Linked DNA regions of Homo sapiens. The protein of the gene in region 3 interacts with the protein of the main gene of each other region in a biochemical or structural test. Each region holds a gene or a part of one and is shown on either strand. Other genes may lie near its edges.

Region 1 (3,747 bases), on a different chromosome or scaffold from region 3:
GTGCACAGTCCCTACTGAAAACAAGGCAGGTTTCAGGGAAACATGTCAGGCATTACTAGTTTGAAGCAACTATTAAAGTATCCATATTGGAAATTTCAAATTTAACCTACCATATTTCTATTTCTTATACTTTAGCTAACATATCTTCCTTCAGATTTCCCCACATTTTAACTTTTAAAAATTTACTATCATTTGGGCTTTTTACTAAAAATTTGCCTTAAATTTCTTTTCCTATTTTTGATGCTGTGTTTTCTGTTTATCACATGTTCATTCTTTTGCTCAAGGCTTGGGTTTGTGTGCCAAGATTCACGGTTGCCTTCCCAGATTTGGCTAACCTTTCTGGTTTGTGGGTGAAACGTGGGTGCTATTAGAGTGATATATTTTCATTTTGTTTCTCCTAAACTTACTCTCCCCTAGGAGGCCATCATTTCCTACACTTTTCTGCTTTACCTTTTGGCTTTTCTTTAGATTTGTAATGTAAACAGTGTGCCTAAGAGTGTATTGGTGGCTTTACAGAGCTTAATTTGCAAATTTCCCTTTTATCTCAGTACTTGTGCTAACTTGTTGCTTTTTTATGTGTAACAAAATGTTTATCTGACTGATTTTTCTCTTTTCCCTACCAGCAAATTCTGAAAAATAATTCTTGTTTTTTGTTAATGATTAACTGCCTTCAGGGTGCTAAAATGGTAGAACTAAAACCTAAGCGATAAATGAGGCATTTCTATTTTGGGTTACATTGTAATATTCTTTATTTTTACATGAACTATATTTAATAGATTGTCTAAATAATAGGATCATACTTATGTGGTAATGACCATTTATCTAACTGGGTAACCTACCCTAGATTACAGCAGAAGTGTTTATTGCTACAACAGATGTATTTACCAACCCAAACTTTCCTCTTTTGCCTAGCGTAAATTATTTGAAGAATGATGGCATCTTTTCCTTTATAATAACAAGTCAGGTCTCTTTCAAGTGACCCAAATTTTGTTTAACTCGGCCACGTATTTCTTCTTCCAAAGTATTCTATGGCTCAGAAGTGAGGGCGATTTGAACCAACGTCTGACTAGTACAGAACGCTCTTACTCAGTTCTTTCTAATGTTGGCTCCTCATAGTTTAAGGACCACCCTCCTTAGAGGATAAACATTCCGAGCGTTTCGAGGCTCCTGGCCTTTATTGCTGTACACGTTTCTGCACCCTCCGCGCTTCCCCGGAGAGAACTGCCTTCCGTCTGTACCCCTCCAGCCACTTCCTGATGGCTCCCTACCTCATTCCTCAGCGCCTGTCACCTGCGTACCCGCGCCCTTCTCCCACGGGGCCGGTGCGTCTCCCTGTCCCCCCACCTCGCCTGTCCCTCTGCGACGCTCCAGGCGTACTCCTTTTTGTGGCTTTTGTGGCGTGTGGGTGGTTGGTTAGTTTTCTCCCCTGGCCCTCGCCCCCTCCTCCCCGTCATTTTCCTTCCCCCCGCCCCCCGTGCCCGTCCTGCCCGTCCTGCCCCTCCTCCCTCCCACTCACACACCTGCCCCTGCCGCCCGCGCGCCGCGCGCTCCCCTCCCCGCTCCGGCGGACGCTGCCAGGGAAGCCCCCTCTCCTCCTCCCCTCTGCGCCCTCCCTGGCGCGTCTGGCGGCGGCCGGCGCTAGCCCTCGCACAGCGCCCTGTTATTCTGGGTATTGTGTGTAATAAATGTCGGGCCGCCTCACTCTAATCAAGCTCATTACAAATTCTTGCGCGCCCGGGGCCGGAAATCGTGCGCTCCCCCCATTCCCTCACTCATTCACTAGTTACTTGTCTTTCGGCTTTTTAACTCGCCGCCCCCGCCCCCTCCCCCAATCCCGGCCCTCCAGCCCGGGTTTTAATCCCCATCCCTTTTCCGCCCGCTCCGTGCACCCTGCCCCCCCACGCCGCCTTCCTCCTCGGCTCCGCACCCCCTTCCTCCTCTCCTCCCCCCTCCTCCTCCTCCGCCGCCGCCGCCGCCGCCGCCACTTTCTCGCTCGCTCCCGTTCCCCGGACGCGGCGGATGAGCCGGCCCCGCTGGGGAAGGCTCCGGGCGGCGGCGGGCGGCCGGGAGGAGGCTGCGTGCTCGGGGCTGGGGCTGCGAGCGGGGTGATTTTGTATTAAAATGAGGAGGAGGAAGAAGAGGCACCCACAGCGGCAGCGGCGGCGGCGGCGGCAGCAGCAGCAGGAGCAGCGGCGGAGAGGGCTGCAGCCCGGGCGGACGCGCGGAGCCGAGCGGGGCACGGCGGCGGCAGCGACAGCGGCCGGGATGAGTCAACTAATAATTTAATGGGGGCAGAGACGGCAGCGAGGGGTAGAGCTAGCGAGGGAGAGAGCGAGAGAAGCAGCCCCGTCCGGGGACTCGCGCTCACACTCACGCACACACACAAACACACACACACCTCTCCCTGTGCCACCCAGCAACACCCGGCCTCGTCACAACAACAACAGCCGCGGCCGCCCTCTATCCTGCCCGGGGGCCCAGCCGAAAGCCAGGGCGACTCTAGAGGACGCTGCCCGCCCCCCTCTTTCATTTCGGGAAACTCCTGATCAGTTTTGTCGGGGTTTCTGGGTTTCTTTTCCCCCAAAGTCCTAGTGCCATTGTGGTGCTCGTTGTTTACCTCGGACTCTGGACGAGTGAGAGCTTGGCGACTTTTTGGGGGGAGGGGGCGGGGAGTTTGTCGCTGCCTAGGCGGTGGAGGTGGCTGGGGGTGCCTTCTGATCTTCCTCCTCCTCCCCCTCCCCCCGAACCTCTTCTCTCCTCACTTGCTGGGACCCCAGACGCTCACAGCCCCGCGTCAATGGGCAGGGAGAGGGTCCTTGCGGCTGTTGTCAGCGAGGGCAGAATCAAAAGTGGCATTTTAGTGCCTTTCCGGGGCTTTTCTCGCGACCCCCTGCCCCCCACCCTCGCTGTCCCCCGCTAGATGCCCTCGTTGGGGGTGCGAGGCTGTGGGGAAAAGTTTAAGGTTTGTTAATATTAGTCGCGATTGTTGGCGAGGGGGGTGGGGGTGATTGGAAGGGAGGCGAGGTGGCCTTCCCAATGCGCGTTATTCGGGGTTATTGAAGAATAATATTGCAAGTGACAGCCAGAAGTAGACTTTCTGTCCTCACACCGAAGAACCCGAGTGAGCAGGAGGGAGGGAGAGACGCGAAGAGACCTTTTTTCCTTTTTGGAGACCTTGTCCGCAGTGATTTTTTTTTTTTTAAGAGAATCCTCAGTCACCACGTCGTTTCCCCAGCACCATCACAGTGTACAGCTCATAACGGGTTTTGCTTTGTTTTTACGATTTCCCCCCAACGAATCACTTGTCAGATCAATTTTATCTTCTTCCTCCTCCCTGCTTCCCACTCTCCCCTCCTCCCCATCGCAAACCCTGTTCTCTGAGGTTAGACATTTTACAAACCCCTATATGTTGGTTTTCGAATTGTGATTTTTTTTTTAAACCCCTTTCTCATGGCTACTCTTCTAGACGTTTATTTCTGCCCTTCCCCCGCTTAGGGGGGCGGGGGTAGGGGAAAGGAAAATAATACAATTTCAGGGGAAGTCGCCTTCAGGTCTGCTGCTTTTTTATTTTTTTTTTTTTAATTAAAAAAAAAAAGGACATAGAAAACATCAGTCTTGAACTTCTCTTCAAGAACCCGGGCTGCAAAGGAAATCTCCTTTGTTTTTGTTATTTATGTGCTGTCAAGTTTTGAAGTGGTGAGTTTCAGGTCGGTTTTGCTAATTTCACTCAGTAAAACTGCAGTGTTT
Region 2 (3,747 bases), on a different chromosome or scaffold from region 3:
CAGGGAATCCCTAAGTAGGACTGCAGAAGCATTAAATGAGATAATGTACTTTTATTCATGGGAGGTGTTCAATAAATATTATCATCTTTTCCTTTCTAGAGGTGTTTTAGGCAATCACTAACTACCACCTTATTCCTAAGAACTTTTTAAGGACAGTGTCCATTTCTTTCTTTTATTCAACACATTTATTGATTACTAAATATGTGAGGGGACCTGCTTTGGACATGAACAGTAATAAACAAACTCCCTGTTCTAAACAGTTTCATAATTTAGATCAAAGATAAACTATCAGCCTGGGATTGCACCTGGCCTATTACTTGTTTTGTTTGGCTAGCACTTTGAATCAATTTTAAATTTGAATCAATTTTAAAATTGAAATAGCCCACAATGTCCTTTTAGGGACCAAAATACTTGACAACACTGAGCCCAATTCCAGTTGAAGAGCAACTGACTAGCGCTGAGCAGCCCTGATGGTTTCAGCCAGGTCTGTTCTATCCAAGCGGAGTTCCCCCACCAGACCTTATGGTCTCTAATTGAAACACTTTCAGTTGCCATTTATCATAGCATTTGCTCTTTTGTTTTAAAATATTTCTCTATAATCAGGCTTCTATCGAAAGCAGGAAAACTACAGGGCGACTTGGGACTGCATGCTTGACGGGAAAAAAAAGCAGCATTAATTCTCAGTGGGAGGCTGGGCGCCGTGGCTCATGCCTGTAATCTCAGCACTTTGCAAGGCCGAGGGAGAATCACTTGAGCCCTGGAGTTCGAGACCAGCCTGGGCAACATGGTGAAACCCTGTCTCTACGAAAAATACAAAAAATTAGCTGGGTGTGATGGAACGCACCTGTAGCCCCAGCTATTTGGGGCTGAGGTGGGAGGACCACCTGAGCCAGGGAGGTCGAGGCTACAGTGAGCCGAGACCGTGCCGCTGCACTCCAGCCTGGGGGACGGAGTGAGACCCTGTCAAGAAATTTTAAAAATTAAAAAATAAATAAAATCAGTGGGAGTGAGAATTTCTACGAACTTAATATAAAAATAACTTAAAAACAACTTAAAACACCATTGCGCCGGGCGCGGTGACTGGCGCCTGTAATCCCTGCACTTTGGGAGACCGAGGCGGGCGGATCACGAGGTCAGGAGATCGAGACCATCTTGGCTAACACGGTGAAACCCTGTCTCTACTAAAAATACAAAAAAATTAGCCGGGCGTGGTGGCGGGCGTCTGTAGTCCCAGCTACTAAGGAGGCTGAGGTAGGAGAATGGCGTGAACCCGGGAGGCGGAGCTTGCAGTGAGCCGAAATCGGCGCCACTGCACTCCAACCTGGGCGACAGAGTGAGACTGTCTCAAAAAAAAAAAAAAAGAAACGCCATTGCAAAACCTTGAGAATGGTTTTAACTGGAAAAAATGTATGATGAACAATTTAACTGAAAAATAAATACAATTTTAACACGGTTTGTTTTTGAAAGCGAATGTGACGTTGCATTCTTCATACAGTGAAAAGGCTGCTTCTCGCCCTTTCGTTACCTGCCCAGTCCGAATTGACTCCTGAGACCTAATCAGGCGCATCTCTATATGGCCAGCATTATCCCTGGGCTGCCTAAATAGTTCGCGTTAAACACAAACAACAACAATAAAATCTAAATAACACTCAGTCTTAGTACCATTATTACAAAAGCGTGAGGGGCGAAAAGATTAAAAATGAACATCAACTTCGGTAGAGATGGAAAAAGACTGCCCACTCCATTCCAGGAAAGAAAAAAGAAAGTGGGAGAATCTGATCACGACGGGCTGAGGTCCTGTGAGAGCAAAGCAGATTCCAAACCGCTTAGGGTTGCTAAATCAAGTGGTAAAACGTGGCCCCTTGCGGCGCGGTGAGATTAACGGACCCGGCGGGCCCAGAGCCTGCCTCGGGTCCTAAAGGGATCCGCCCCGCCGAGTCAGCCACGCCTTCGTCTCCCACGCGCTGCGCCCGGCCGCGCCGTCACCCAGCAGCGGCGCAGGGCACCATGGGAAACGGACGGAAGCTCCATTGAGCCAAATAAGTTGGTGAGAAGGTTCCCGACGCGGCGATGGCGAGAAGCAGAGAAATGGACCTGGGGAGGGGCGTGCGGGGTGCGGTAGGGTTGGATGGAAGCCTTGGCGGGCCAAAACCACTGCGGCTTCAAAATCCGGATGCGCCGGTATTTGAGGCGGAGGCGGGGCTGTGGGGGGAGGAGGGAGGCTATGGCGCTCAGAGCACTGTGGGACACTGTAGGCCACGTGGGGCGGAACGGAAACCTCGCAGGGTCAGACCGTAGCGACGCGGGAAGTCCGGACGCAGTAGCTCCCTGAAGCGGAGGCGAAGGGGAGTTTAAGCCCCAGCGGCGGCAATGGCGGAGAGGCCCGAGGACCTAAACCTGCCCAATGCCGTGATCACCAGGATCATCAAGGAGGCGGTGAGCAGCTCGGGGGGGGCGGACGAACGGGCAGGAGGGAAGCAGGTGCTGGAACGGCAGCTTTGCTCACCCCCGGTCTCCTCGCAGCTCCCGGACGGTGTCAACATCTCCAAGGAGGCCCGGAGCGCCATCTCCCGCGCCGCCAGCGTCTTCGTGCTGTACGCCACATCCTGGTGAGCGGGACAGAGGCATAAGGGAGGCGCGGGGATACCTGGCTGGGAGTTGCTGGCTGGGAGCCTACAAACCCCAACGATTGTGTTCTCCCTCGGTGGGGACATGTTCACAGTCCTCTGCCAGTTTTTACAAGTTCTGAAGCAAAATAACACAACAAAATCACTTTGCTTTAGCTTTTTTGTGCAGAGAAGGGAAGGACTTATCCCTGTCACACCAAAATCCATACATGTAAGAGGCAGGCTTTCCCGTTCCACCTCTGGGTGCTCCTTTTCCCACTCACGCCTTACAAACAAGAGGGAGTCTGACAGCCTTTCTCTTCTCTCAGTGCTAACAACTTTGCAATGAAAGGAAAGCGGAAGACGCTGAATGCCAGTGATGTGCTCTCAGCCATGGAAGAGATGGAGTTCCAGCGGTTCGTTACCCCATTGAAAGAAGCTCTGGAAGGTAACGAGCCTCTTGTCTTCTAAACCACATAGAAGATGGTCATCCTGTGTGACCTGTTCACCAGGCCCTGAGCCTTCTCAGCGCGGGTCCCTTTAAGTCCAGTAAGCCAGCACTTGATGTGACTCGACCCAGTTCGGTGGGCACCACCTCAGATCTGTTTTGTAATGCTGAGCAAGTTATTTTTCCTTCTCTGCCTCCGTTTTTGTTTTTGTCTTGCTTTTCTTGTTTTTGTTTTTTTTTTTTTTTTTTTGAGACGGAGTCTTGCTCTGTCACCCAAGCTGGAGTGCAGTGATGGGATCTCAGCTCACCGCAGTCTCCTCCTCCTGGGTTCAAGCAATTCTCCTGCCTCAGCCTCCCGAGTAGCTGGGACTACAGGCGCACGCCACCACGTGCGGCTCATTTTTTATTTTTGTAGAGACGGGGTTTCACCATATTGGCCAGGCTGGTCTTGAACTCCTGACCTCAGGTGATCCGCCCGTCTCAGCCTCCCAAAGTGCTGGGATTACAGGCGTGAGCCACCGCGCCCATCTGCCTCCGTTTTTCCAATTGTACAATGTAATTAGCTCCTGCAGTCCGTCTGGCTCACTTTCAGCTCTGTCTCCTAACCCCTTGTTCCGTCCTTACAGCATATAGGCGGGAGCAGAAAGGCAAGAAGGAGGCCTCAGAGCAAAAGAAGAAGGACAAAGACAAAAA
Region 3 (3,747 bases):
ACAAAAATTAGCTGGGCTTGGTGGCATGCACCTGTAGTCCCAGCTACTTGGGAGGCTGAGGTGGGAGAATTGCTGGACCCCAGGAGGCTGAGGCTGCAGTGAGTCACGACTGTGACACTGCACTGCAGCCTAGGAGACAGGGCAAGCCACTGTCAAAAAACAAACAAACAAACAAACAAAAACAAAAAACCAGCAACGATCAGTTTCAATACTTTTGTAAATATGCTTCCAACTTTTATCTACATTTTTGAACTGTTAAACCAAATTTTTCAGTTAACACTTTATAAATTAACATTCTTTGGCTAGGTGCGGTGGCTCACGCCTGTAACCCCAGCACTTTAGGAGGCCTAGGCGAGCAGATCACTTGAGACCAGGAGTTTGAGACTAGCCTGGCCAAAACAGCAAAACCCTGTCTCTACTGAAAATACAAAAATTAGCCAGGCGTGGTGGTGCACGCCTGTAATTCCAGCTACTCCGGAGGCTAAGTCATGAGAATCCTTTGAACCTGGGAGTTGGAGATTGCAGTGAGCTGAGATCATGCCACCGCACTGCAGCCTGGGCGACAGAAACTGTCTGAAAACAAAACAACACAAAACAACCATTATTCTACATTAATGGTTGTTAAAGGTTAATAGTTCATTTTCTGGGTGTATGACAGTTTTAAACACCTAACTTTTAATACTGGATTCAGCCTACTGTTGTTAGCTTTTTGCAGTCATATATGAAGACTATGATGAACATCATTGTAGGTATTCATCTTTGCATATATCCTTAGACATTTCCTTATAGTCTAAGAACTAGCATTTCTAGTGGAGTGGGGACATTTTTCCAGATGTCCATTTAAGAATTATCATTCCATTAGTTAAAAAATTTGCAGGCTATATATTCAAAGGGGATCCCTTCTGTTTGGAATTCAACATAACCAGTTAGCTCAAACCTCAACTCTCGAAAAATGTGTCTCCTTTACTCAACAAACATTTAGAGAATACTGAATATGAGGAATAAAAAAAGATAAAAAAGACCCTGTACTGGGCAGGTAATCTACTGTAGTATGCAGATTCGTTATCAAACAGACTACAATGTATTTAAATTTTGTAGGCGATGAATGCACAAGGCCCTTAAGCTGCATTGAAGGCTGCCTAAGGCAGTATACAAAATCAGTGCTGAATATTTGTTAACACTTAAGGAGAATGTACGTTTTAATTTTCATGTTTGATGCTTGGGGAAAAGATTACATCGCACCACCTATCTTCCCCATATATTGATTATTCGTGTTTCTCACTTCCATGGTAGTGTGCACGTTATTTGCTTAACTTTGGCATATAAATTCAGAAGAAATATCATTTAACTCTGTGCCTAAGGAGGGTATTTAGAAATAACCGACGCAGCTAACATGAGAAGGCAAAAAAAAAAAAAAAGAAAAAAGAAAAAAATCACACTAACGGACTTTTTTTTTTTTTCTAACAACAAAAAACCGTGAGACTTCACTTGGGGTAACCATAACGTCGTCAAGGCTGTGGCGTCACGCCTCTAAGCGGATACGGCAGAAGTTTTGGGGCCAGACACAAGACTTCCAAGTTTGAATGGGCAGCGCAAAACCCAGACAAGTTTTCCGGTAGTGCCGCCAACCCCTGTCAGGCACAGAAGACACAGCGAGAACCGTGAGCCGTTACGAAAGCCTAAAACACTGAGCTCGCGTCCTGCCAAGCAGCAGGCGCACAAACCTACACCTCCGAGCGCTCCCTGGAGGTCCCGCCCACTCTTCTCTCCCGAGCCGGCTAGAGATCTGGAAGAGGGCGGGCCAAGGGTGAGGAGGGCAGTATGCGCATGCGCGCTCAGGACCCAGTCAGTGAGCCAATAAGGAATCTCGCGAGTGTTGAAAGTCGGTGGCGTAGGTCGTCGTCCTGGATGCTGGCGAGATAGATGTTATCTTCCAGAGGAAGAGGAGGAGGCGGCGAAGCGTTTTCCCAGCCTCAGTCTCTCTTTCGTTTTCCTTTTCCCTTCCCCCAACCCTCCGCCCTTCTCTAAATCAGCCGGCCTTCCTTGACCTCAGTGACCCGTCTGGCCCCGCCCACCCTCGTCGACGTGATTCCCGCCGTGAGGTAAGCGCCGGTGGAACCTAGAGCCCCGCGGAAGAGCAGAACGTTTGGGAGTGTGCAGCTCCTGGGCCCGGCTCAGGCCCGTCGCGGAGGCGCGGCGCAGGGGAGCGCTCGGGTGGGAGTCTCGCTCCTCCACCAGTTTATTGCGACGTAGCATCCAGGCCTAGGCCTCCCCGTCCATCCCCGCCGGACTCGGGCCTCTGGCAGCAGCGGGTGACGCAGACGGAACATCATGTCGTCCGCGGCCGAGCCTCCGCCACCCCCGCCTCCCGAGAGCGCGCCTTCCAAGCCCGCAGCCTCGATCGCCAGCGGCGGGAGCAACAGCAGCAACAAAGGCGGCCCCGAAGGCGTCGCGGCGCAGGCGGTTGCGTCTGCGGCCAGCGCTGGTCCCGCAGACGCCGAGATGGAGGTGAGGGCGACTTGCGGCATGGGGAGCGGGTGCAGCGGGGAGGAGGAGCTGGCTCCCTCGCCGGATCGTGGCGATCGGACGCAGAGCCGGGTTTCTCTCTCTGCACCAGACTCAGCTTCACACCCTGTGGATACGAAATGATGCTCTCACTCTTGCTCCCTTGTTCTTACCCTATTCGAGCTAAGCAAAATGGATTTCTGGCTCCTCACATTTAAATTATTTGTCTCTTTCGTGAATCCTGACAAATATTTGAACGCTCTCAGTGAACAGATGTTCTTGGTTACCGTGGCCCGGGGGACCCATCGTTTTTTTCCCACTAGACTCCCATAATTCCCTCTCCTACCTCTGAATGTGGTTTTTAGTTTCCACCAAACTTCGGGGAAGGGCGAGGAGATGACCCCTTAGGAGCGGGATGCACGGGCGGGGTGAAGGAGGCATTTAAAAGCAGCGCGTCCGAGGACTTGGGCCTCCTTTTCTTCTTCCCGGTCCTTGCAGGGGCGGTATCTGTTGTGGGCAGAAACAATGGCGAGAGCTGGATGGCCGAGTGCGCAGTGGGGATAAGCGGGGCGCAGCTGCTTCTGTGAAGGGAGAGAAGGCCCCTCCCAGGCACTATTCCACTGGAAGGGAAGCAACCAAGGCAGCAGCAGCTGTCTCGGATCCCCCGTCTAATTTAGGGGGGATGAATAAGTGTAGGAATGAATTAGAGAACCAGGCGCAGTTGGTTGGCTCTCAGTCCGGCACTTTTCTCTTTTTGGCCTCTGGCCTTAAGAAAAAAAAAAATTAGTACCACTCGCTGCCGAGACTTATGGGTTTGGGTTGGGCAGGGGATGCTGACAGTACTGAGGGGGCTGGAAAGATGGGGGAAGCTGCCAGGCGGGTAAATTGGATATGCTTCCAGGCTTTGCATCTGGGAACAAAGTAATTGCTCCTTCCAATTTTTATTTTCTTGGCCTTCGACCTGTTTTGAGATATTTTGTGAGTCGGAGCCCAAAGATTTCTGGGATTTTCCTATCCTTAGACAGAATGAAAGTAATACTGCTCCGAAGATGAGTCTTGATGCAGAATCATTATACAGTAAGAAAATGGTAGCGTAATTTACCATTGAGGCTTTTGGCACAGTAGTTATATTTGGGTAGCTGGGGTTAAGTAACATTAATGTTAGTAATCATTTAAAGAACTTTTAGTGGTGAGGGTAGGTTTAGTGACATAGGAACTCCTGATAGTTCCTGTAGTTTTGAG

What was found.
Region 1: the proteins of SMARCA5 (region 3) and SATB1 form a complex in vitro, tested with the Homo sapiens proteins (one study listed by BioGRID).
Region 2: the proteins of SMARCA5 (region 3) and POLE3 form a complex in vitro, tested with the Homo sapiens proteins (2 studies listed by BioGRID).

What each region holds. Positions count from the first base shown.
Region 1 is NC_000003.12:18,423,576-18,427,322, reverse strand, and holds the start of SATB1 (DNA-binding protein SATB1), read left to right. Parts: upstream 1-1,983; 5' UTR 1,984-3,696; intron 3,697-3,747. UniProt on the Homo sapiens protein: Crucial silencing factor contributing to the initiation of X inactivation mediated by Xist RNA that occurs during embryogenesis and in lymphoma.
Region 2 is NC_000009.12:113,408,917-113,412,663, reverse strand, and holds the start of POLE3 (DNA polymerase epsilon subunit 3), read left to right. Parts: upstream 1-1,988; 5' UTR 1,989-2,047; intron 2,048-2,255; 5' UTR 2,256-2,370; coding exon 2,371-2,436; intron 2,437-2,523; coding exon 2,524-2,609; intron 2,610-2,935; coding exon 2,936-3,054; intron 3,055-3,680; coding exon 3,681-3,747. Other genes in the region: uncharacterized protein C9orf43, read right to left, coding at 1,741-1,745. UniProt on the Homo sapiens protein: Accessory component of the DNA polymerase epsilon complex. Participates in DNA repair and in chromosomal DNA replication.
Region 3 is NC_000004.12:143,511,594-143,515,340, forward strand, and holds the start of SMARCA5 (SWI/SNF-related matrix-associated actin-dependent regulator of chromatin subfamily A member 5), read left to right. Parts: upstream 1-2,108; 5' UTR 2,109-2,331; coding exon 2,332-2,508; exon of another isoform or gene 2,509-2,632; intron 2,633-2,851; exon of another isoform or gene 2,852-3,244; intron 3,245-3,747. UniProt on the Homo sapiens protein: ATPase that possesses intrinsic ATP-dependent nucleosome-remodeling activity.